Homo sapiens: one gene and its partner. The protein of the gene in region 1 binds, or shares a complex with, the protein of each later gene. Each region holds a gene or a part of one and is shown on either strand. Other genes may lie near its edges. The genes, in order: ICOSLG and ICOS.

The links.
Region 2: the proteins of ICOSLG (region 1) and ICOS are in contact, whole or in part, in a crystal structure (PDB 6X4G), measured with the Homo sapiens proteins. Residues at the interface, in NP_056074.1 of Homo sapiens: Tyr51, Tyr53, Gln55, Lys60, Val62, Tyr65, Ile67, Gln69, Asn75, Leu114, Leu116, Gln118, Gly121, Phe122; in NP_036224.1 of Homo sapiens: Gln50, Lys52, Thr66, Thr68, Gly70, Ser71, Phe114, Asp115, Pro116, Pro117, Pro118, Phe119, Lys120.

What each region holds. Positions count from the first base shown.
Region 1 is NC_000021.9:44,233,563-44,245,755, reverse strand, and holds the start of ICOSLG (ICOS ligand isoform a precursor), read left to right. Parts: upstream 1-4,812; 5' UTR 4,813-4,938; coding exon 4,939-4,952; intron 4,953-6,931; exon of another isoform or gene 6,932-7,158; coding exon of another isoform or gene 7,159-7,216; exon of another isoform or gene 7,217-7,267; coding exon 7,268-7,308; intron 7,309-8,538; coding exon 8,539-8,889; intron 8,890-10,193; coding exon 10,194-10,484; intron 10,485-12,193. UniProt on the Homo sapiens protein: Ligand for the T-cell-specific cell surface receptor ICOS. Acts as a costimulatory signal for T-cell proliferation and cytokine secretion. Also induces B-cell proliferation and differentiation into plasma cells.
Region 2 is NC_000002.12:203,929,043-203,941,259, forward strand, and holds the start of ICOS (inducible T-cell costimulator precursor), read left to right. Parts: upstream 1-7,720; 5' UTR 7,721-7,772; coding exon 7,773-7,830; intron 7,831-7,858; exon of another isoform or gene 7,859-11,392; coding exon of another isoform or gene 11,393-11,453; intron 11,454-11,474; exon of another isoform or gene 11,475-11,716; intron 11,717-12,217. UniProt on the Homo sapiens protein: Stimulatory receptor expressed in activated or antigen-experienced T-cells that plays an important role in the immune response.

The DNA of each region.
Region 1 (12,193 bases):
GAACAGACGGTGCGGAGGCCAAGGCCAGATCCACGCACAAAGGATGTCACTTGTGGGTCCTACCCCAGGTGGTATTGCTTGCAAAAAGCAGGGCTCCTCCTGGCCCTCTGCAGTCTGAGTCTCAGTGAGGATAAACCCAGCAGAAAGCTCTGCCTCAGGCTGTGCTCGAATCACAGGAAATGAATCTTACAGGGGAACTTTGGGGTCTGCACTGGGACTATTAGTGGTACGTAAAATGCTTTGTGGAAGAAAGGTTAAAATTGGACCCTTTGAAGGTTAAAAAGGTGTATCTGGAAGTAGAATAGAAGCCTTCACTTGAGTGAACATGACTGAACGCCTCTCCCATCTTGGGACAGTCCTGGATGCTTACGACACACATCTCACGTCCAGGGATGAATTTAGCAAGCTCTGTAATGACCCCGGGGTTCCTGAAGCCACAGAGGGAGCACAGGTGAGGGCATCCAAGTGCAAATGAGCCCTCTGGGGAGGCCTGCTTGAGCTGACACATAAATGGGGTTGAAGCCATTGTGAGCCCATGGGCACGGGCCAGGCAGGGTGGTGAGAGCTCCAGACAGGGCGGGCTGGGCTCAGGCTGTGTCCACCCAGGGAACCAGTGTCATGGGCCCAACATAACTCGTGGTCAGTTTCTGTGAGGGCTGCTTCAAAGCAGGGGCCCAAGGCTCTGTTAGGGGCTTTCTGCCACCCAAAATGCACTTTCCTTCTTTTGTTCTCTCCCCAACACTCAGAACTGTCCACACCACCTTGAGATTCTCTATGTATTTTATTTTAAATTTTTATTTTTTGAGACAGGGTCTAGCTAGTCCCCCAGGCTGGAGTGCAGTGGCACAACCATAGCTCACTGCAGCCTCCGTCTCCTGGGCTCAAGAGATCCTCCAGCCTCAGCCTCTGGAGTAGCTGGGACTACAGGTGCATGCTACCATGCGCTGCTAATTTTTAAAAATTATTTGTAGAGATGGGGTCTTGCTCTGTTGCCCAGGCTGGTCTCAAACTCCTGGGCTCAAGTGATCCTCCCACCTTGGCCTCCCTAAGTGTTGGAATTACAGGTGTGAGCCACTGTGCCCGACCTGCCAAGTATTTGAATTTTATACACAGGACCTGTATCATGATCCCATGCTCAGCTGAACCACCCTCCAAAGGATGCCCATGTCCCCATTCCCGGATCCTGTGAATGTTACCTCATGTGGCAAAGGAAGGACTTTGCTGACGGGATTAAATTGAGGTGGAAGGCCTCCCTGGATCATCCAGGTGGGTTCTACGTGTCATCCCAAAGGTCCTCATAAGAGAGGGGCAAAGTGAGGCTTGACCACACAGAGAAGCCACATGGCCACTGAGGCGGCTGCTGGAGCTAAGCACAGGGATGCCTGGGCCACCCAGAGCTGGGAGAGGCAGGTAGGATACTCCCCTAGCGCCTCCACCAGGCAGGCTTCCGCTCTCCAGGGCTGAGAGAGAATAGACTGCTGTTGTTTTGAGCCAGCAAGCGTGAGGTCGTTAGTTCCAGCGCCCACAGGAAACGAACATACAGTCATGCACCACATAACCTTCGGTCAACAAGCAATGCCACAGTGCTCCCATATCACAGCGCGGTATTTTTACTGCACCTGTTCTATGTTTAGATGGCTTTAGATACACAAATACCAGTGAGTCACAGCTGCCTACGCTATTCAGCACAGTCACCTGCCGCGTAGGCTCGTGGCCCTGGAGCAGCAGGCTGTGACACACAGCCTCGGCGTGTAGCAGGCTGTGCCACCAGGGCCAGTGTGTGCACTCTGTGTTCACACAAGGACAAAATCACCTAAGGACGCATTTCTCAGAAGGAATGTATCCTTTTCGTTAAACAATGTATGACTGTTCCCCGAAGAGAAAAGATCTTCCTTGGACCAGAAGTTGAGCTCTCAGCATCAGCGGACGCCCATGCTGTCAAACGCAGGTTGCTGTGCCAGACCCCAAAAGGACCCGGGCCTGGAGGTGCATCAAGGTGGAGATCAGAAGACCCCCACGCCCTCGAAACGGCAGAGCAGGGCGGCCTGGGGCTAGGGGCATCAGGCAGCTGCTTCCTGCTTAAGCACTACGACTCGCACCCAGAGCCTCGAACTCCAGGCTGCACAAATACGATTCCTGCTTGGTTCCCAGTTGGCCCTGGACGCTGCCAAGGGGCCCTCTCTCCACACCCCTAGAACAAAAGCCTATCCTGCCGGCCCAAGAAACAGTCACGGTTGAGGGGGAAAACGAAAACCTTCCTTTGACTACAGGAAACTTCCCAAAGGTTTCCCTGTTTCTTCATCTAAACCCATCTAAGTGTTGTGACACATGTGCCGGTGTGCTGTGTGCGTTCACTTACAACAGCCCCATTCATGTATATGTCACACGTCAGGGGATGCAGGCACCAAGGGGCTAAGGAACTTTCTGGGGTCACACAGCTCCGGAGTTGGGATCTGAACCAGCCACCGCTTACCGTGGTCTCCGAGGTTCCTGGGCTGGTCCTGGCACCCTCCCCCGCGGCCGCCTCGGCCTGCCTCAGTGTCCCCTTCTGGCCCAGCTGCCTTCCTGCCCCTGCCTGGCTGTGGCCTCCACGCGGCGTCCCCTCTCTCGGGGGGGCGGGGGGGGGGCTGCCCGCAGCACTTGGCTTGCTGGGGTCTCCGGCGTCTGCCCGGGAAGCAGAGCCTGGACCTGCCCCCTCGGCCACAGCACGGCGGGCCCTGCGGTGTCGGCCCCTCTCCCACCGCCCCCGGGCGGCACTGGGGGGCTGCGGGGTCCGGACGCACCGACAGGGCACCTTCCCTTCGCCGCCGCGGATGACCGGCCGCGCTCTTGGGAGGCCTTAATTTGGGAGGCTCTGCTCCCCCAGGACCCATTCCCCATCCTCCCAAAGCCCCCACGCGGTATCCGGGGGCCGTCCCCCTCTCCGCAGTCCCGCGGGTGGAGGGGATTCAGGTGCGCCCGGCCCTGGGGGTGGAGCGCTCGGCCCGGCGTCAGCTCATCGGCGCGGCGCAGCCCCGGACCTCAGCCGCAGGCCCAGAGGCGCGCGGTTCCCGGCCGGTCAATCAGGGAGGGCCTCCGGGAGGAGGTGGCGCTGCCCGCAGCCCGCCCGGCTCACCTGCGCCCTCCTCACCTGCGCCCTCCTCACCTGCGGGGCCATGCGGTCCCTTACCAGCAGCCGCCCGCCCCGGGGCGAGGAACCTCAGCCCCCAACATCGCCACCCCTCCAGCCTCGCCGGTCCTAGCCGGCGTCCCTGGGCGTGTCCCGGGAAGCGCACGTCCACGCTGGCGCTGGACCGGGTTTTCTGACTCCAGGGACGGGACTCGTCCTAAAGAGTCCGGCTCAGATGCGGTTACGCGCCTCACCTCACCCGGGTGCGGACCGCCAGTGCCTCCGCCCTGCACTCCGCGGGCCCTGCCCAGCTCTTCCCGCCGGAGGGCAGGTGGCCCCCGCCCCGCCCCTGCCAGGCGCGCGATTTTAAATCCCCCCAACCCCCGTCTCTCAGCGTGGCCTGGGAGGGGGAAGCCGCCCGGCTTCAGGGCTTCCTGCGCCTTCGCCGCCGCCCTCCCTGCCCTTCCCCGCCGCCGTCCCCCCTATCCCCCCAGCCCGTCTCTTCCGCCTTCTTATTTTGTGCCTGGGCTCTCTGCTCCGCAAAAATGTTGACTTCCCACGGGCAGAGGTTTCAGAATTTTTTTAAAGCTTTTGTCCACGGCGTTCTCTACATCTTGGTTGAAGGAATGGCAGCCTGCGGGGTGCCGTCTGGGGCCCCCGTCTCCCTGCGCTTCTCGCCTCCTCCATGCGCAGGAGGCGGTGGGGATCCGAGCCTCAGCCCAGAGGCGGGGGCTCCGGGAGGAGGGTGCCCCGCTGCCCTGTCTAGCAGCCTCACCCAGGCCCTTCCGGAGGTGCCTCTGCAGAAAGGGAGTCACGTCCCCCCTGGGCCTCACCTGGCTTGCAGGGATCAGGGAGGGAGGGCGGGGTGGGCTGGGTGCGGTGGGGAAGGAGCAGGGACTCTGGGTCCCACCCTCGGTTGCGTGGTGCAGCCTTTCCCAAACCAGCTGCCCCAGACTCCAGGCCAGACGCCACTGCCAAGGCTGACGAGCCCAGAGCCGCAAGCCTGCCTCGGTTTCTCGGCGGGGGATCCTCAGAGCCAGTGTTAAGCAAAGAGGCTGCGCCAGCGCCCTTCACACCCCTAGAAGGCTAGGGGAGCAAGGCTAGGTGGGGGCGGGCTGGGGCTGGCCCAGAGGGTAGAGCCCGCCCACTTTCCCTCCCTCCTTCCATTCATGCATGCGTTCATTCAGTCATTCATTCCTCAGCAGTCGCTGAGCTCACTCGCCTTAAGTCCTGGAGATCATCGGAGCGCAGCCGGCCAGGGGCCTGGCGCTCTCCCAGCCTTGGGGCCTGGGTCCCCGGACTCCTGCTCGGGGAGGGCCGCAGGACCGGCGCATTGTGCGCGGCGCGGGGAACGGCCCTTGCCTCCCACGGTGCCCTCCCTCGCTGCGCCGGCACCCGCAGCACCCCTGGCCACCTTCCTGCCGGGTACCCCCCACCCCTGCGCTTCCCAGGGCACCTACGGCGCCCAGGTCCGCGTCCAGGCGGACAGGCCGACCTGCCTCTGTCCCGCCTCCGGCCGACGGGCACACGCCTGGGCAGAGCCGAACTTTCCGGAGCCGCCGCGCAGCGCCCCGCCTCCTGTCCCGGGGCGGTCTCGGTCGCCAGAGGAGCCAGGCCGGGGGCGGGGCGGGGACGGGGCGGGGACACGGCTGCCTCCAGCACACCGCGCGCTGGGCGCTCAGAGCCTCGGGCGCGGCGGGAGCGCAGTTAGAGCCGATCTCCCGCGCCCCGAGGTTGCTCCTCTCCGAGGTCTCCCGCGGCCCAAGTTCTCCGCGCCCCGAGGTCTCCGCGCCCCGAGGTCTCCGCGGCCCGAGGTCTCCGCCCGCACCATGCGGCTGGGCAGGTGAGCCGGGGAAGGAGCGGAGGCGCCGCGGTCAGGGGCGGGGTGGCTCGGCCCGCGCGTCCCCAGCTCGGCTCGGACGCGGGGCCTGCGGGGCTCGCCTGGAGGTGCCGGGCTGGCAGTGCGGGTCCGAGGAGCGGGCGGCGGAGGCGCCGGGGCGGCCGGCGGGGCGTGGACGGCAGTGGGCGGCGGGGCCTGGCACCGGGACCCATGGCAGGACGCACAGCCGTGCGGGGGCGGGCTCGGGGGCGGGGTCCCTGCCAGGGAAGGAGGACCGCGAACGCTGGAAGGAGGGAGGGAAGGCGGGCGCACCCTGCACGCCGGGGCACGGGCGCTGCCCCTTCCACTCCCTGGCACTGCTGATTTCCTAGAAGAAGGGAGAAGGAGGGAGGTGACCGGCCGAGCGCTCTCCAAGGCCAGCTGGTGCCCACGGTCTGCGGACACGCCCTCCCCCACACACGTGGGATTCCCCGCAGCCCGGCAGCCGATCCACACTGGGGAAGGCGGGGCTGCCTGAACCAGGAGTGACAGCTTCCTCCTGGATTTTTGCGAAAATATCCAAAATATACTCTTCGCAACCCACGTTGTAGGGTCCGCAGCCTGTGCTCCCCTGGGTGAACCTGTGAGGCCCCTGACCCCAGGGATGCCTCCCGCACAGCTCAGAGCTGGGCCACACCGGAGTCACACTCCCCAGGTCCCCTCCCCATTAGAAGTGTATGCAGTTATGATCCTGCCCTAGAGAGAAAGAATTTAAAGGTCCCGGAATGTCATAGCCCTCCCAAATGTCTTAGCCCTCCGCCACCCACACCTTCAGGTAGGCGGCCCTGTCCATGCTGGGTCTTGAGGCAAGCTCGGGGTGGGGGTAGGTTAGATGCAGGGGTGCTGAGGGTCCAAGGAAAGGACACAGAGGCCGCTGCTTAGGCAGCACCCAGGGAGGGGACAAGCCAGAAACAGCCTGGAGCAGGCACCCCCCACCCTGGCCCAGGAAGCCCCCAGATGTCCTGAGGAGGCCTCCATAGACAGGAGGGGCCTTGTGGGCTGGTGATGAATATGGGCACTGTGGGAGACAAATGGGGGCACAGAGGAGTTCTCACAGCTGTCGTTTAGATGGTGGCTCTGGGGAAATGCTTGAAGGGGCTAAGGGTGGAGGCAGGGGGCCTGCTGGAGGCCATCACAGCCATCTTGCCAGCCAGAATGGTGGCCCCAACAGGGGGAGTGGGAGAGAGAGGAAGGGCCGCCTGCAGACTTCAAGAGCCCCTGGTGGCCAGGGGCCGCCTTGGTGCATGTGTGCTCACTTGGCACAGACACACCTCCATGCAGACTCAGATGACAGCCATCGTGGGTGGGGCAGGGGTTTCTGTGGCTCCAGGGCTCAGGGACAGCCCACTGGGAGGTTCCCACAAGACCAACCTTTGACTTACAAAGCCCCCAAGCTTTCCCAGGCAGAGGCCACAGAGAAGAGGGATGAGCGTCTCCCAGACCTTGGAGGTGCAGGGACATCAGAGAAGGAGATGTCCCTGCTCCTGGGGCTCTTGCTTCATGGGGAGCTGGCCCCAGAAACTGATGGTTTGGGGGGCTGGGGTAAGCACTGCTACCAAAGTGGTCCCGGCCACTAAGGGCCCCCACGTGGGGAAGGCATCCTGGGGGCTGGCGGGAGGAGGTGGCGAGCCTGTGGCGTGCAGGGTGCAAAGGCTCCCAGACCCAAGATGGCAGGGGCATTGGAGTCACGAGGGGAATTTGCTGCCCGAGGCAGGGGCACCAGCTGCAGCAGGATCTGAAACAGGAGGAGCTCAGGTTTGGTTTCAAAATGATCCGCGTTCCGCACAGGGCTGTCCCGTCACTCACCTGACCCTGTCACGGGCACGCCTGATGTTCTCCGTCTCCCCAGCATTTTAAGTGACACTCCTACTATATGTGCCCTGAAAGCTTTTTTTTTTTTTTTTTTTTCTGATTTCCTACAACTTCTTGGCATCTGTCCCCAGGAAGGCTAGACCAGCCTCACTGGCGTCCCTCGCTCCCCTTCATCCTCACGCCAGCATCACTGTGTTTCTGGGGATTTGTTACCGCGAGAGCTAGAGAGTGGTGAGAGGCTGCCAGCCCCTCGGACTTGCTGTGCTGGGCAGGAGGGTGGTGGTCCTGGCCCCGGACCCCGAATTCCCATGGAGAACAGAGGCAGGCAGGCTCCTGGCTCTGCCTTCACATTTCTGTGATGGGCTTAACTACCTCCTGCTCATGGGAACCAGCCTGTTCCTGTTTGGAAGATACAGGTAACTCCCTGGTGGCCCCGCCTCACCTGCCTTTCTGGTTGTTTTTTCCAGTCCTGGACTGCTCTTCCTGCTCTTCAGCAGCCTTCGAGCTGGTAAGTTCAGGGGGTGCTTTGCCATGGGGCGCCCAGCTCAGAGATGGGCTCTCCGGCTGTGTGGACTGCTGGCCGCAGGGCACTGGGAGCAGCCTCACCAGGCTCCTTCTTGCTTCTCAAGTGGTCCTTTGGAGACAGTTGGACCCTAAACCTAGGTTGCTGCACAGGATAGAAGCGTTTCCTTAAAGGGAAACACTTCTGCAAACTCCGGAGTTCTTGTTTGACTCCGTCTTTGTTGCGGGCAGAATGCAGTTCCTCTGAGCCAGGGCTTCCTGGGTCCCCTGGTCTCCCTGTCCCAGGCAGCAGCCCTGCTGAGCCCTAAGAGCCACCAGCCTCTGGAAGAGCCAGGAATAAGGACGAAGCACCGCAGCACAAACCTGAAACCTTGCCAAGCCTTCCAGCCCAGAGGGCTTTGGGGGCAGGGGACACACACAGATTTTCCTGCAGGTGCCAGGTGCAGTGGCTCACTCCTGTAATCCCAGGACTTTGGGAGGCCAAGGCGGGTGGATCACCTGAGGTCAGGAGTTCGAGACCAGGCTGGCCAACATAGTGAAGCCCGATCTCTACTAAAAATACAAAAAATTAGCTGGGCATGGTGGCGGGCACCTGTAATCCCAGCTACTTGGGAGGGTGAGGCAGGAGAATGGCGTGAACCCCAGAGTCGGGGGTTGCAGTGAGCTGAGATCACGCCATTGCACCCCAGCCTGGGTGACGGAGCAAGACTCCATCTCAAAAAAAAAGATTTTCCCACAGGCATTTACGTAGCTGCACAAACAGTAAAGCTACCCTGTGTCTGCCACATTTGTGACAGCTTTCCTACTGCAAGTGAGCAGCAATATAATGTAATTGCTGAGAAATTCTTTTCCCTTAAATGCCTTTCCCTTAAAGAACTTTTTATTGTGCATTAATTATAGACTCCCGAGAAGTAGTAAAAGTAGTGCTGAGTAACAAAAATAACACTGAGCGGCCAGGCCCCATCCAGCCGCTCCTCCCCATGGCAGCCCCTTACATAACAGGAGTGTGTCATCGAAGCCAAAGACTGACATGGACCTCACCATGAAATGTCTGCGTTTTTCAAGTTTGACTGCATTCCTACATGTGCCTTGTTAATAAATTCTGAGCCACCGTTGGTGTTTGAGGCTTGAAACCCAAAGTCTGCCCCATAGAGTAGCTTCATGGCCTGGGCATCAGCCTCCGAAAACAGATTTTGCACCTTTTGGGCCATTGCAGATACTCAGGAGAAGGAAGTCAGAGCGATGGTAGGCAGCGACGTGGAGCTCAGCTGCGCTTGCCCTGAAGGAAGCCGTTTTGATTTAAATGATGTTTACGTATATTGGCAAACCAGTGAGTCGAAAACCGTGGTGACCTACCACATCCCACAGAACAGCTCCTTGGAAAACGTGGACAGCCGCTACCGGAACCGAGCCCTGATGTCACCGGCCGGCATGCTGCGGGGCGACTTCTCCCTGCGCTTGTTCAACGTCACCCCCCAGGACGAGCAGAAGTTTCACTGCCTGGTGTTGAGCCAATCCCTGGGATTCCAGGAGGTTTTGAGCGTTGAGGTTACACTGCATGTGGCAGGTAGGACCATCGAGGCGGGGAGAGCTAGGTCCATCCCAGCCTCACATCGTGGACAAGTGTTCATGAAACCCCCTCCCTGGCTCATTCACTGTTTCTTCCAGTGAAGAAAATTCTCATCTGTGTTATCAGGCTTCTGTCTAACTTCGAGGGAAACTAAACAGCTGAAAAATCCTTAGTGCATGACCTGCGGCTGCTTGGTTTCCCGGAAGAGCTCCTACCCTTGCTGTCTTTGCCTCTTGAGTTAGTTAGCTTTTGTTTTTGTTTTTGTTTTTTGAGACGGAGTCTCGCTCTGTCACCCAGGCTGCAGTGCAGTGGCACAATCTTGGCTCACCGCAACCCCCGCCTCCTGGGTTCAAGCAATTCTCCACAGCCTCCCGAGTAGCTGGGACTACAGGCGCGTGCCACCACACCCAGCTAATTTTTGTATTTTTAGTAGAGACAGGGTTTCACCATGTTGGCCAGGCTGGTCTCAAATTCCTGGCCTCGTGATCCGCCCGCCTCAGCCTCCCAAAGTGCTGGGATTACAGGTGTGAGCCACCGCGCCTGGCCAATTAGTTTGTTTTTTGAGACAGGGTCTCACTGTTGCCCAGGCTGGAGTGCAGTAGCGTGATCACGCTGCAGCCTTGACCTCCTGAGCTCAAGCAATTCTCCTGCTTCAGCCTCCTGAGTATCTGGGACTACAGGCACATGCCACCTCGCCTGGCTAATTTTGATTATTTGTAGAAATGGGGTCTCACTATGTTGCCCAGGCTGGTCTCAAACTCCTGGACACAAGCGATCCTCCTGCCTCACCCTCCCAAAGTGCTGTGATTACAGGCGTGAGCCACCACATCCAAACTAGAGTTTTAAAAGTGAAATTTGAAGGGAACTCTATAAAGCACTAAATGAGAACAAAATTTAAGAGAAAAATAAGAGGCAACCAAGGAGCTCTGGGCAGTTCATTGGGGAGAACAGCTGTGTCCATTTCAGATGGACTGTGAGCCCCTGTGTCAGCAGTGAGAATGACCAGATCCAAATGAGGGGGTCCCGGCACAGCCGACGGCTGTGGAGTGGGGGGTCTGTGGGTGCCAGTCACTGCCCGACAGGCTCAGCGGTCCCTGGCTACTGGGACTGGCTTGGGGGATGACTCTTGGGCAGGACAGGGCGGAGCCTGCTGCTCGGACCACAGCCCTGGTCCTGGCCTGTCACCCATGTCGGGGCACAATGGGCCGCCTCCCCTCTGACCCAGCCTTGGCACCGTGTACCCTCTGTTTCTTGACCAGCAGGGTCTGGCATCTCTCACAATCTGTTTCCCTCCCCTGCAGCAAACTTCAGCGTGCCCGTCGTCAGCGCCCCCCACAGCCCCTCCCAGGATGAGCTCACCTTCACGTGTACATCCATAAACGGCTACCCCAGGCCCAACGTGTACTGGATCAATAAGACGGACAACAGCCTGCTGGACCAGGCTCTGCAGAATGACACCGTCTTCTTGAACATGCGGGGCTTGTATGACGTGGTCAGCGTGCTGAGGATCGCACGGACCCCCAGCGTGAACATTGGCTGCTGCATAGAGAACGTGCTTCTGCAGCAGAACCTGACTGTCGGCAGCCAGACAGGTAAGGTCCCGGCGCCTGCGTGCTGAGCTGTGCCCGACAGTGGGGCCAGGGCTGGCTTGGGAGAGCCTCTGAGGTAGGAGACAAAAAGTCCCTTCGACGCGGCTCAGCACCCGAAAGGTGGTTGGAAGGGAGGGGAGGTGAGAGGCACATGCCGCACAGTGAGAACCACCGCGGTCTCTGGGAACAGGAATGGGTGCCGTGCCCAGTGCATATTGCTCCATTTTCTTCACCTGGAGTCGGTTTTCTTAAACCTACTTTACAGATGAGGGCTGAACTCTGAGGCTGGGTAACACTTCAGAAGCCGCAGCACTAGGCAGCAGCAGCCCAGAACAGAAGCCCACAGCTGTGCAGCCCCCACCCAAGCTCCCTGCCTCTTGGGCGTGTGTCCCCTGAGAAGACTGAAGCCCCCAGACACGGGAATCCCACTGCGCACGGCTGCTGGCCCAGCCCCTCCCTGTGGAAGGGGTGCCCTGTGGAAGGGGTTCCTCTACGGGGACTCCTTTGTAGAGGACACAGGCCCTCCCCATTTGTGTCCCCATCTCCTGTGTCAGGATGAGAGGCAGAAGATGGAGGCAGGAGATGATCGAGGAGGGGTCCTGGGGCCCTGCTGGCTGCAGGAAAGGGGCTGCCAGCAGGACTCACCGTGTGGCCCTGGGCAAAGCAAGAATGCAGGGCTCCTTGTTTCGGGAGCATTAAGAATTCCAGACAGTGACCACAAGCATTGCACCTCCTGCCGGCCTTTCTGAGCTCAACCCCAGAAGCCTGCACAGGTCATACCCTCGAAGTCCACCCTGGCCGCCAGGATCCCCGGCAGAGCCGGACCTTCTCCTTCTTGAAATCAGGGCTCAGCCCTTCTGACTCAACATTCAGAGTGTCTGAGCTGCATGCAGCGGGATGAGGGGCTGCTCCCAAAGCAGCCTCTGATAACTGCCTTCCAGCCAGCATACTCCCCGCAGAGCAGCCCAGGTGGCAGCAGAAGCTTCTCCCAGGGCTGTCGTCTCAACCCCGGCCACACAGTGGGGTCATCTGGGCAGCCTATGAAAGCCCCCATGCCCAGACCCATTGCACCTGAAGCTCTGGGCTGGCACCTGGCATCGGGACAGTGTCTAAAAGCTTCAGAGGTTCAAGGTTGAGCACCGTCCAGGTGGTTTCTCCAAGTGTGTTTGGAGACGCGCCGGGCATTCAGAACAAGCTCCCAGGGGGATGCCGCTGCTTGTTTGCCGGTGAGGACGGCTCTCTGAAGGGCACTGCACACAGAGACCAGAGGCATTGTTAGCTTTGTGCATCGTGGCGGAAAAGCAGAAGGGCGCAGCTGCCATGGGGAACGTTGTGGCAGTTCCTCGAAAAGCTCAGCGTGGAAGCACTGCAGGACCCAGCAGTTCTCTCCTAGCGATATAGGCCAGAGGATTCAGAACAGGGACTCAAACAAATGCCTGTCCGTGAATGTTCATGGCAGCCAGAAGGTAGGAACCACCCGAGTGTTCCTCGTGGGTGGACGGATGCACCAAACGTGATCCATGCGTGCAGGGGAGAATTAGCCTGAAAAAGGAAGGAGGCCGCTGTCCTGACGCACGCTGCGGCGTGGAGAACCTCAAGGCCATTATGCGAGTGACAGAGCCAGACACCTGAGGACAAGCCTGTGGGACTCTGTTTATGCAAAGTGTCCAGAATAGGGTGAGCCACTGAGACACAAAGCAACTGGAGGCTTC
Region 2 (12,217 bases), on another chromosome or scaffold:
AAAGCATAACCCAAGAAACCTAATATAATTTGACTTAATCTCTATAATTTCTACCAAATTCCAGTGTAGTGTTCCAGCCTATCTAAGCTCCTTGGGTGAAGGCCATTTAGGCTTTCAGTTGGATTTGGAGAAGAGGTTATTTTTGCCATTTAAGGTGCTTCCAAAGAAAAGAAAAAAGACAGCAGTTTTGAAATGGAATGCATTGCATAGTTTGAAGTTATCATTTTATATCCTAAAAATACATCAATTACTGGGAAGAGGTTATTAAAATCTTAAAATCTTACTCTGAACAGCCACTCAAAGAAGACCAATGTTACTATTTTCATGATTTTTCTGAAAGAGGGTAACCAGTCTTAATCCTGAGTACAAAAATTTGGGATGAGTCCAAACATAATACAATATTTCAAAAATATCAATGATGATTAAAGAGTCATGAAAATTTAAAATAATAATAACTATATTTTTGGCATTATGTACTTTTTTTTTTTTTTTTTTTTTGAGATGGAGTCTCGCTCTGTCACCCAGGCTGGAGTGCAGTGGCACGATCTCGGCTCACTGCAAGCTCCGCCTCCCGGGTTCATGCCATTCTCCTGCTTCAGCCTCCCAAGTAGCTGGGACTACAGGCGCCCACCATCACACCCGGCTAATTTTTTGTATTTTTAGTAGAGACGGGGTTTCACCGTGTTAGCCAGGATGATCTCGATCTCCTGACCTCGTGATCCGCCTGCCTTGGCCTCCCAAAGTGTTGGGATTGCAGGCGTGAGCCACCGCGCCCGGCCTATGTAATAGTTTTTAAGAGCTTTCATATACATTACCTTTTGGTCCTCACAAGGATCCTCTGTGATTACAAATGAGTGAACTTTCGCTCAGAGAGGTTAGGCATCTTTCTCAAGACCACACAGTTGGTAAGTGACAGAGTCAGGTCTAAAACAAAGGTCTTTGAATTTTATGTGCATATATATATATATGTATGTATGTACTGCCAATTGAGTGTCATCCTTTAAAGCAGAAGTTAAAAATGAATAGTCCATGGGCCAAACTGGATCTTTAGATATGTTTTGTTTGCTTCCTATAATGTTGGCTCATGGTGTATTTTAAACTTTTTGAATAAGCTCCAAAATTTAAAAATGGGGATGTTTCCCACAAAGACTAGAATTTCATGTGTCTTTGGAAAAAATCAGAAGAGATGGTTACACTGGATTCATATTCCCTAGCGGCAATGTACAGCTGAAGCTGTGTGTGTGTGTGTGTGTGTGTGTGTGTGTATGTGTGTGATTCTAGCTGGTTATAAACTGTAGAGAAGCAACGTGGCATGGTTTGGCTGTGCCCCACGCAAATCTCATCTTGAACTGTAATCTCCTTAATCCCATGGGTCATAGGAGGGACCAAGTGGGAGATAATTGAATCGTGGGGGCAGTTTCCCTTATGCTGTTCTCACGATAGTGAGTGAATTCTCATGAGATCTGATGGTCTTATAAGCCCACCTCATGGATATGAGACATGGAATCAAAGGAGATCATTTCAGAACTTTAAGGTTTAGTGACTGCCCTATTGGATTTCGGACTTGCATGGGGCCTGTAGCCCCTTCATTTTGGCCAATTTCTCCCATTTGGAATGCGTGTATTTACCCAATGCATGTACCTCCTGTATTCGTCTGTTCTCACATTGCTACTAAAGACATTCCTGAGACTGCGTAATTTATAAAGGAAAGAGGTTTAATGGACTCACAGTTCCACATGGCTGGGAAGGCCTCACAATCGTGGCGGAAGGCAAAGGAGAAGTGAAGGCATGTCTTACATGGTGGCAGGAGGGCTTGTGCAGGGGAACTCCTATTTATAAAACCATCAGATCTCATGAGACTTATTCACTACCATGAGAACAGTATGGGGGAAACCACCCCCACAATTCAGTTATCTCCACCTGGCCCTGCCCTTGACACATGGGAATTATTACAATTCAAGGTGAGATTTGGGTGGGTACACAGCCAAACCATACCACTCCCATTGTATGTAGGAAGTAAGTAACTTGCTTTTGACTTTACAGGCTCATAGGTGGAAGGGACTTGCCTTGTTTCAGATGCGACTTTGGACTTGGACTTTTGGGTTAATGCTGGAATGAGCTAAGACTTTGGGGGACTGTTGGGAAGACATGATGGTGTTTTGAAATGTAAGGACATGAGATTTGGGAGGGGCCAGGGGCAGGTTTGGCTGTATGGTTTGGCTGTATCCCCACCCAAATCTCATCTTGAATTGTAATCCCCAGAATCCCCATGTGTCATGGGAAAGACGTGATGGGAGGTAATTGAATCATGAGGGTGGTTTCCCCCACGTTGTTCTCATGATAGTGAGTGAGTTCTCATGAGATCTGATGGTTTTATAAGCATCTGGCATTTCCCTTGCTGGCACTCATTCTCTCTGCTGCTGCCCTATGAAGAGGTGCCTTCTGCCATGAGTGTAAGTTTCCTTAGACCTCCCAAGCCATGCGGAACTGTGTGTCAAGTAAATGTCTTATCTTTGTAAATTACTCAGTCTCAGGTATTTCTTCATAGCAGTGTGAGAACAGATGAATACAGAACTGTAGAATGGTAACTCAGGAGCCAAAGACAGAACTAAGGGAGCCTGAACTCTGCAGAGGCTGGAAGGAATGGGATCCAGAGAGGTGCCTTACTTATGTTTTGAGGAATATACTATCATTGGAATGAAGGCCAACATGAATAAGTGGCAGTATATTTGTTAAAAATATCAATCATACCATTTGGCAGTCACATCTCATGCTGATTTTTTTCACCCCTCATGGAAATATATAATCAGTTTTCTGGGCTTTATGGATTAATTAATAACTTTAAATGAGAAAATATTTGGCTGTCAAAATGGAATATACTTTTGTTTTATGATTAGAGATGGGCAAGTGATGAGAGATGAATCAGGATGATGAATTATATATTTATTCAATTAATTTCAATGTGAAATACAAACATGTTTTGATAATTTTCTGCTCTCACATTATGATTCAGAGTGAAAAATTGTCATTGGTGAGCATTCCCAAGGTCATATGGTTCCTCCAAAAGTCAAGGATTCTTCAAACACTTGTTCATTCAATAAATAGTTGTGGAGCATTGCAAACATACTTGCAAAGAAGGCATCTTTAGGCTGAGGCGGGCAGATCACAAGGTCAAGAGATCGAGACTATCCTGGCCAACATGGTGAAACCCCGTCTCTACTAAAAATACAGAAATTAGCTGGGCATGATGGCATGCACCTGTAGCCCCAGCTACTCGGGAGGCTGAGGCAGGAGAATCGCTTGAACTCGGGAGGTGGAGGTTGCAGCGAGCTGAGAGGTTGCCACCGCAGTCCAGCGTGGTGACAGAGTGAGACTCCGTCTCAAACAAACAGTAACAAAAAAACCCGAAGACATCTTCAGTTCTTGTTCTGATGTTTCTCACAGTTTAGTAGAAGCTGTTGGAAAGCAAACAGGCCATTACAGTGGTATAATTGTTACAATTGTTACAGGTAGCTAGACAAGCATGAGCTGGGCAGGAGAGGGCTCTTCCCCCACTCATAGGAATGCTGGGTGATGGTTTGGCAATTATCACATTGCCTCTCTAAAAGTGATAAATTGGCAGCTGGTGCCAGGGAGAGGTCATTTCCTGATGGTCCACACCTGTTGCACTAAAGTGTTAATTGAATGCGGGTACCAGGTAGAAGCAACTTCCTGGGCCTGCGCATTAAGAGACAAAATGGCCTCTGGAGGCACACCACCAGAAAAGGGAAGAAAGCCTCAGATGAGCACACGTACAGTTTCCTAAACACACTGCATGTGCTCACCTCCTAAGGGTAAGGAGGGCACTGCACATGCGGGCAGCCCACCCTAAGGGAAGAATCCTGTGAAAGAGGCCAGCCTATAAAGTCCTAAAATCAAGGTTAAACACCACACTTGACCTTGGGCCTCTTCCAAGCACATGCTCCTTTTTTCTGTTCTAAAGCTTTTTAAAATAAACTTCTATTCCTGCTCTGAAACTTGCCTCGGTCTGTATTTCTGCCTTATGCTTCTCAGTCAAATTCTTTGTTCTGAAGAGGCAAGAAATGAGGTTGCTGCAGACCTGTACAGATTTTCTGCTGGTAACTAAGATACCTTCCACCGATAACATAATGATTTCTAGGATGGGGGACACAGAGGAGCATTGGGAGGTTGCAGAAAAGCCACTAAATGGACACTAGTTATGGGGGTGGTTGGGAGTGAATGACATTGGTTTGATGTCTTTGATGAATCGATGGGTATGGAAGCAAAGGCCTGAAGAATGGTGGAATATCTGCCAAAGAAGGTAGGCTAGAGTGGTGAGGAGGGGAAGCACAGACAAAATGATGGCTCCTGGCAGTAGAAGGAAGAGTTAGTTTGGGGAATTTGGAGAACTTCATGTCATTCAACGTGATGGAAACATTTGGTACAGAAGGAAGAAAGAACAAATGTGGCAAGAGATGAGGCCGAACTGGGGAAGGAGTTGCCCTTCATAAGGAATCTTGAAGGGGTGTGGGCCTTACCTAAGAGAGGAAGCCAGTGGAGGATCCTGGGTGGGGCGGGGACACAGATGAATTCTATTTACATTTTACAAAGATTACTCTGGTTGTAGCATGAAGACAGACCAAAATGGGACAAGGGTGGGAATAGAAATGACAGAGGCCTGATCTAAGTCAGTGACCTTGGCAAGCGAGGAGGAAAAAATACTTGAGAGACAGTTAGGAAGTAGAGTAATTGGGGTTTATCGGTGAATCAGCAGGAAAAGGGAGAAGGCTGGTTGGTGGTACCACTCAACAGTATAGGCAAGGTAGGAGTTGAAGCAATTGTGATTAGGAAGGACCTCTCACTTTTGATGCTTGTCCCTTTCAGAATGGCAAACCAAGCTTAGGTGAAGCCTAGATATTTGGGGGTTACTTTCTAACCCTATTGCTTGGACTCAACCATGCTGGTGTCTGAGCTCCTCTACTCAGACAAATGTTGCTTTCAGTAAGTTGCAAGCAAAGCAAAAGAAAGACATTCACCTACGGCCCTTCAGAAAAGCAAGCATGCTGCATGATGAACTCTGGTGCCCAGGAGGCAAGAAATAAAAAACACTTTTAATGTAACCAACTTTCCATGCCCCACCCTCACCCCAGGCGTCTGCATACACAAATCAAAACCATCTTAAGTCATGGAATGAAAAAAAATTAAAAGCAAACTAAAAGCACTTCCTGTGAGGTGAATGGAAATTTTTGCCCAGTTAATTTTCCAGGCACGTGAAAGCAGTTCTGAATATTTTAAACCACAAGTACTTGTATTCTTGACCAAGATTTTTGAGAAGGCGAGGCATGGGAAGGATCATTGAAACAGGACTTTGACATAAAACATTGTTTACATAGAAGTGAGCTCTTCTCCACTATCGGATCAATTTACCACCCAGTGTCTGACAAACTGAGAAGCGAGAGGGTTGGGAAAAAGCAAAGAGATACATATCAAACAAAACCACACATATCCAGTTGAACTAAAGCTGAATTTAACCATAACTTGTGCAACTTTTCTCCCCTTGAGGTAGAAACATTACACCTCCAATTGACCAGGACATCTTTTTTTGCATTCAAATTATCTTGGAATTTCCTCTAGGACCTAAGTATCCTTCCACCATGAAAATAGGAGACCAAAAAAAGTAATGCTTCCAGTAATTTCTAGCCAAATAAATGAGGATAAGTGTGTGAGTGTGGTGGGGTAGTTAAGAGTTTGGAATCCAGAGTTTCACTGTCTGGATTTGAACAGGCTCCGTTGCTCATCAGCTCTGTGACTCCGGGCAAATGACTGAATCTCTCTAACTCTCAGTTTTCTCATCTATGAAATGAGAATAAGTAACAGACTCTCCCTCGCTGAGTTGTTTGAGAACGGGATCAGACAATGCACGTGGAGCCCCGTGTCTGGCACACACTATGTCCTCATTGCATATTTATTATTAGGTTTCTGCTTTGTATTTTTCTCTGTGCAACAGCCCTGAGCTCTAGAACTTATGACAGCTTTTCTCAAGTGAAGTTAAAGTTCCCCATACTCAGTTCCAGAGCTAGGCCTCACCTAGGTTGGAAGAAGTCAATTGTTCTCCACTGCCTGCCTGTGTGCTGGGAAAGGACTCTAGCACAGTGCCGGTGGGGCTGGAAGCCTTTCCTCATGATGCTACGGGGAGTACAGTGAAAAGGGAGGAGATTGGGGTAGCAAGGTCCCAGGGGTCCTGGCAGCCCAGGCTCTACTTCTCAGGCTAGCTCAGTCCCTCAAACAGCTTCCTTCACACCCACTGCTGAGACCCAGGAGCCCTACAGAAGGTAGCTAGGGGAAGCTTCAGCAGCTAGGGGGATCCCTGCAGGATCAGCCTCCTCCTTACCTTGCAGACCCCTTGGCTGTGGTCTGGCATTCCTAGTGGCTGGCCTAAAGCCCCAAACCTGGAATCTGTTTCAGAGCCTGGACCTTTTGGACTCACACCTTGGTTTCCCTGGCCAGCTGATTTCAGCTTCTCATCTAAATGTCATTTCTGCAGGCTAAGGGAAGTCCAGCCTGGATCTAGCATCTTGGAAGCGCGTTCAGACTTCTGGATGGAGGGATCAGCAGGCCTTGGTATTGGTGGTTCTACCTGCTTCGGTTAAGAGTGAGGACTCTGGAGCCAGACTCTCTAAATCATAGCACTGACACTTACTATATGACTTGGGCCAGGTTCGTTACCTGTCTGTGCCTCAGTTTTCCTCATCTGTAAAATGGGAGATTAGTGGTCACCATTGGGATGATTAAGAAGATTAAATGAGTTAATGTATGTATAAACTATAGTTATAATGTAAATATATATACAAACAGTAACCATTTACATGCATATAAAACATAATATAAATGTAATATTAGCTATATTCATATATAAAAATAGGTATATTTTATATATAAAATATATTACATTTAATTTTTTACATTTTGCATTAAGATATATTATTTCATATAAAACATTTAAGTACATATACATATAATTATCTATGTAATTATTATTGTTATTGTTGTTATTGTCTACTTTACCTCCCTGCAGGGATGGGGAGACCACGGCAGGCTTTTAAACATTCTTGGTCTCACTGAGCCGTAGGTGAGGAATCCCTGGTTCCTACAGACTCTGCTGTAATATGAGGAGCAGGGTTTAAGTTAGTTTAAAACTGACCCCATCATTTGAAACATTGCAATCTACAATGAATGCCACATAAATATCATTTCTCAGATTCCTATGATGCTCTTCTTTCAGATCTTTTCACTTCAATTTCTATAATAATTTTGTTTGTTTCTTGTCCTATTTCAAAGGCTTTCTTATCTCTGGAGCACCTAGCATAAGATAGAAATGTGTCAAAATATATGTTTTATTCATCATGTGAGTATTTTTAGGTCCTGTTAACCCCCATAACTATTGATTCAGAGAAGTAGGGTGGTTCTGAAAAATACAGGCATAATCTCTTTAACTTGTTTTATAGGAACCAGAATAAGGGTAATGTTTTCCTCTGTCTTCAAAATCATCAATAATCCATGCATTGTTTAACTCATGTCATAAGCAATAATGCCTTTCATATAGCCATTGGCATCAAAGAAGAAACACCCCCTTGATTTGATGGTAAGCGTGACACTACATAAACTCCCAGAAAACCCACTTCCTTTCCAGCAAATAGAAAACAACCGAGAGCCTGAATTCACTGTCAGCTTTGAACACTGAACGCGAGGACTGTTAACTGTTTCTGGCAAACATGAAGTCAGGCCTCTGGTATTTCTTTCTCTTCTGCTTGCGCATTAAAGTTTTAACAGGTAAGTGGTGTATTGAATATTTCTTATTAAGTTATAATTCAAGTAAACATTAAGAAAAAGCAAAGGTAGAAAAATTACGCACCCAAAAGACAGTGGTTTTGGTTTTTGAAAGTAGGAATAGTTTCAGGATATGGCCAAGGGCACCATGTCACTCATGTCACTGTGGATGGCATTGAGTTTGCATTGCTGCCTTTGATACTGTGTCTTGAGATGAAAAACATGTTTCATCAGACCATTAAATTTTTAAATTACCTGCTTGGAGTTACCTGTCAGTGGATAAACTAGCAGAGTGGCTTACTGTTCTTAGAGAAAGATGAAAGGCAAAATGACTTGTGTCAACAGAATGAAAATTAAATAGCTCTGGCATTTGGACTGGGAATTCTTTCTGTGGTAGAAAATAAAATGGGAAGTCTTTGAAAAGAAGGATTTTGATTTTAATCTTACCTGGATGATCTGTTATCTGAAATGTCCAGGGCACCATAGAGTTTTTATTGACACTAAGTATCAGAGTTCACCCTAAAAAGCCAAGGAGGAAAGGATAATGTAAAAATACTTCCTAGCCCCTGTAGACCTTACAAAAAAGATCATTCTGGAGTCCCTGATTCCTTCTCTTGAATGGCATATAGCAGACTCTATATGGACAATTTAAATAATGCTACATACAATGTAAGTTAATACACGTGTTTCTGCTGCTTTTTACTGTATATAATTTGTACTACTTTTGTTTTCTCTTTCACACTGAGCCCTATTCTTGAGGTTGAAAAAAGGAAAGTTAAGTAATATTAAATAACTTAAATAATCAAATAAACTAAAAGTGAAGGCAGAACTTTTAGTAGGTATGATCCTATCTAGGGATACATTTTTTCAGTGGCAAAAAAATAGACCTTACTGTTCTTACAAAAAATGAAAAAAAAATGAAATCAAATTGATCAAATGTTTCATCTTGTGCTGGCTCAAAGTGAGTTAAGTGCAGTTAAGAGGATTGAGGAATGTAGAATGAGCACAAGGACAGTTTTGGGCTACTTGCTGGTTTATGCCTTTTCTAGAATCTCATGAAGTCCTTTAGCGGCATGAATGACATGAGCAGCTTTGGAATTTATATTCATTCTTCATTCATCCATTTACTCATGTAGCATTGAGCACCTGCCTGGTAGCAGGTACTGTGCCAGATGGTGTATGTACAAGGATGAGCAAAACCAGGTCAACCCCTGTTCTTTGGAAGGTAACTGCATGGTAGAGAGAGATATATTAATCAAATAATCCCATTGATTAATGATAATTACAGGCAAAACTCAATTATATGAGGGAATGTAACAAGGAGCTTGACTAGACTGGGTGGGTGTGGAGGTGTAGCTGAGGAGCAGGGTTCATTGAAGTCTTTCCTGTGCAAGTGGCACTTGAGCGGAGATTTCAAGGACAAGGTAGCAATCAATGGGGAGAACGGTATGAAGGTAGGGAAGAACGTTCCATACCATGGAAGGAACAAGTGCAAAGAGCCTGTGGCAGGAAGGAATGAGGTAAGGTTAGGGAACTAGAAGAAAGCAGACAGATGTGCCTGAGCACAAAGAGGGAAGAGGCTGAGCTTGGTCCAAGATGACCAACTGGTCCAAGTTGGTCCAAGGTGAGGCTGGAAAGGAAAGTAGAGGCCAGACCATTCAGACCATATAGTCTATGTTCCAGATTTTGGATATTCTTCCAAGAACGTTGGTACCATTCGTGGAAGGGTTTGTTTGTATTGATAAAAATCATTCAACTAGGCCAAACCAATTTGGGCAGTTCTGGTTGTGGTATTATGCTCAGGAGAATTAAAGTAGCATCGGTGTCAATTCTGTGGAAGGTGAGATCCAGCCTTAGGTAGGATTGTTTTAAGTTTCCAGATTAAGCTGACGAATAATTTGTATTCTGGAACAATATTCATCGTAGATTCTAAATGAATACAACCAATGTTCACTCTCATTATAAAGAAAGCCATGAGATGTGGCATGCTGTTTGGCATGTGGCAAACCTGAGGCACGAGTGGCTAAATGGTAACAATAAATCTGCTAGCAATGATCCTATTTAAAATATCTCCACAATGCATGTATCCAGAAACTGCCATGTAAAAGCTCTAAAGAAAAAGAGCCAAACTCAAGTAAACTAAGTACTTGCTTGTCCTCTGTTGTATTTTCAATCCTCCCAATTTACATAGGCTTTCTCATGCCATGAAGATGTAGGCATTCTTACCTTTAGTCAGTGTTTGAAGAATTTCCAACCAGGAAAGGTTAAGTGATTTGTTACACAGTAGTTGGTGGCAGAACCAAAGTTAGAACTCTAATGTGACTCCAACATCTACATTCTTTCTAAACTGTGTTGAAGTAGTGGAGGTGTAACATAAATCTAAAGGAACGTAAATCTCAATGATTCTGATCACCTTTGTTATTTGGTTGTGAATTAAGAAGGATGGGAATCTTGCTGATTTCTAGTCTTTGATGGATCTCAATGTAGAATTTAACAAAGTCTTGTTTTTTTTTAATGAACTTGGAGCAATAGGACACTTTTAATTATAAAAATATCTACGAAAAATGTGAATGTCTAACTACATTTTGAAGACCCTCTTTGTAGACCTTATAGGCAACAGGGACCATATGAGTGATGGGACAAATTCTGGTTTTAGAAAGACTACTTTAAAAGCAGTGTGGATAATACACCAGATTGGGAAGGGCTGATGGCAGAGGGTGTCTAATAAACGTGCATGTATTATGATGTGTTCTGTGAGGAAGCTGGGAGGATAGCCCTCAAGGCCACTTTGAGCCTTCCTTTGTCACTGAGGCATTCCATTAGTGACTCCTGAATTCCACTTGGGAAAAGAGCCCCTCAGTGTCTCCAGCGTCTGAGAGAAGTCTGTGAAGATGACTGACCTTGGAGCCCCTCTTAGCCTCTCCACGACTGAGTAAATGTCATCTCCTGACAGCACCCCCTTCCAGAGTGTTCTTGTTAGATTTAACAAAAATCCCAGTTGTCAATTTTTTCTTTTGATAGATGAATTCAGGCCATTCCCAGTCAGCATAAGCCTCTACTTGATTTTATTTCTATGTTTATTTACTACTTATTTTTCTTTGTTGTATCCTCTTTTTCTCTTTTATTTTTGTTGGTGTGATGAAATTTCTTTTGACTCTCCTCTTTGCCTCCGGTTAATTTGGAAGGTCGACTACAGTTCTTAATTTACTAAGTAATTGACATGTTCAAAGAATCTTAATTGAATGTCTACTTGTTTATCATTGTATGAAAATAATGAAAATGCCTTTGTCTGATGTGCCTAGTCCCCATCCCCTGCACTGATATGAGAACTTAAGAATGTTCTTCCTTTCCCACTCTCACACTTCCCCCAGACAGTGCACCCTGCTCCATACGTGGGTTTTGTGGAAATAATTTAAAACTTACAGTTGCAGATCATTGCTAGGTTTCCTCTTACAGTATTTCTCTTCTGTTTCAAGAATCCTTTCTTAACACTTACATCACATACGTTCAATGACAACATCATTCTGGACATCTGCTCCTGTCTTGTGATCTCTGTTCTAATCTAATGATCAGAAGACTTCTCTTATTTTCGTTAAATACCCCCAACTCTCTGAATTCCAGTACAGGTAAGGGTGTCTTCCTTTTACCTTGATGAGTGACTGATATCTTTCCTGGGAATAGGAGTCCTGGATGGCAGCCTTTCTTCTTAGTGGTTGCAGATATTCCTCCACTGTCTGCTGGCTTCTAGGGTTGTGGGTGAAGAGTTTGATGGTAGTCTAACTCTCATTCCTTTGTAAAAAAAAAAAAAACTCTAGAATTTCATAATCTTGAAAGCTATTTACTTCAGTATTGGAATTCAGGAATTCCTCCAGGATATGTGTAACTCTCTCCCTCTGTTTCTCTTTCTGTGTGTTTCTATTAATTTTTTTTTTGAGGCGGAGTCTCACTCTGTCGCCCAGGCTGGAGTGCAGTGGCGCAATCTCGGCTTACTGCAACCTCCACCTCCCGGGTTGAAGCGATTCTCCTGCCTCAGCCTCCCAAGTAGGTGAGACTACAGGCACCCGCCACCACGCCTGGCTAATTTTTTTGTATTTTTCGTAGAGACGGGGTTTCACCGTGTTAGCCAGGATGGTCTCAATTTCCTGACCTCGTGATCCGCCCACCTCCGCCTCCGCCTCCGCCTCCCAAAGTGCTGGGATTACAGGCGTGAGCCACCGCGCCCCGCTGTTCTATTAATTTATTATTATTTTTTTTAAGACTGGGTGAAAGTTTTCAATCTCTAGACTCAAGCTTTATTCTTCATTTCAGTCATTTTTTTCCTAGTATTTGTTTAATCATACCTTATGCTGTTTTTCCCCACTCTTTCTAGAAATGTCTCTTATTCTTATGT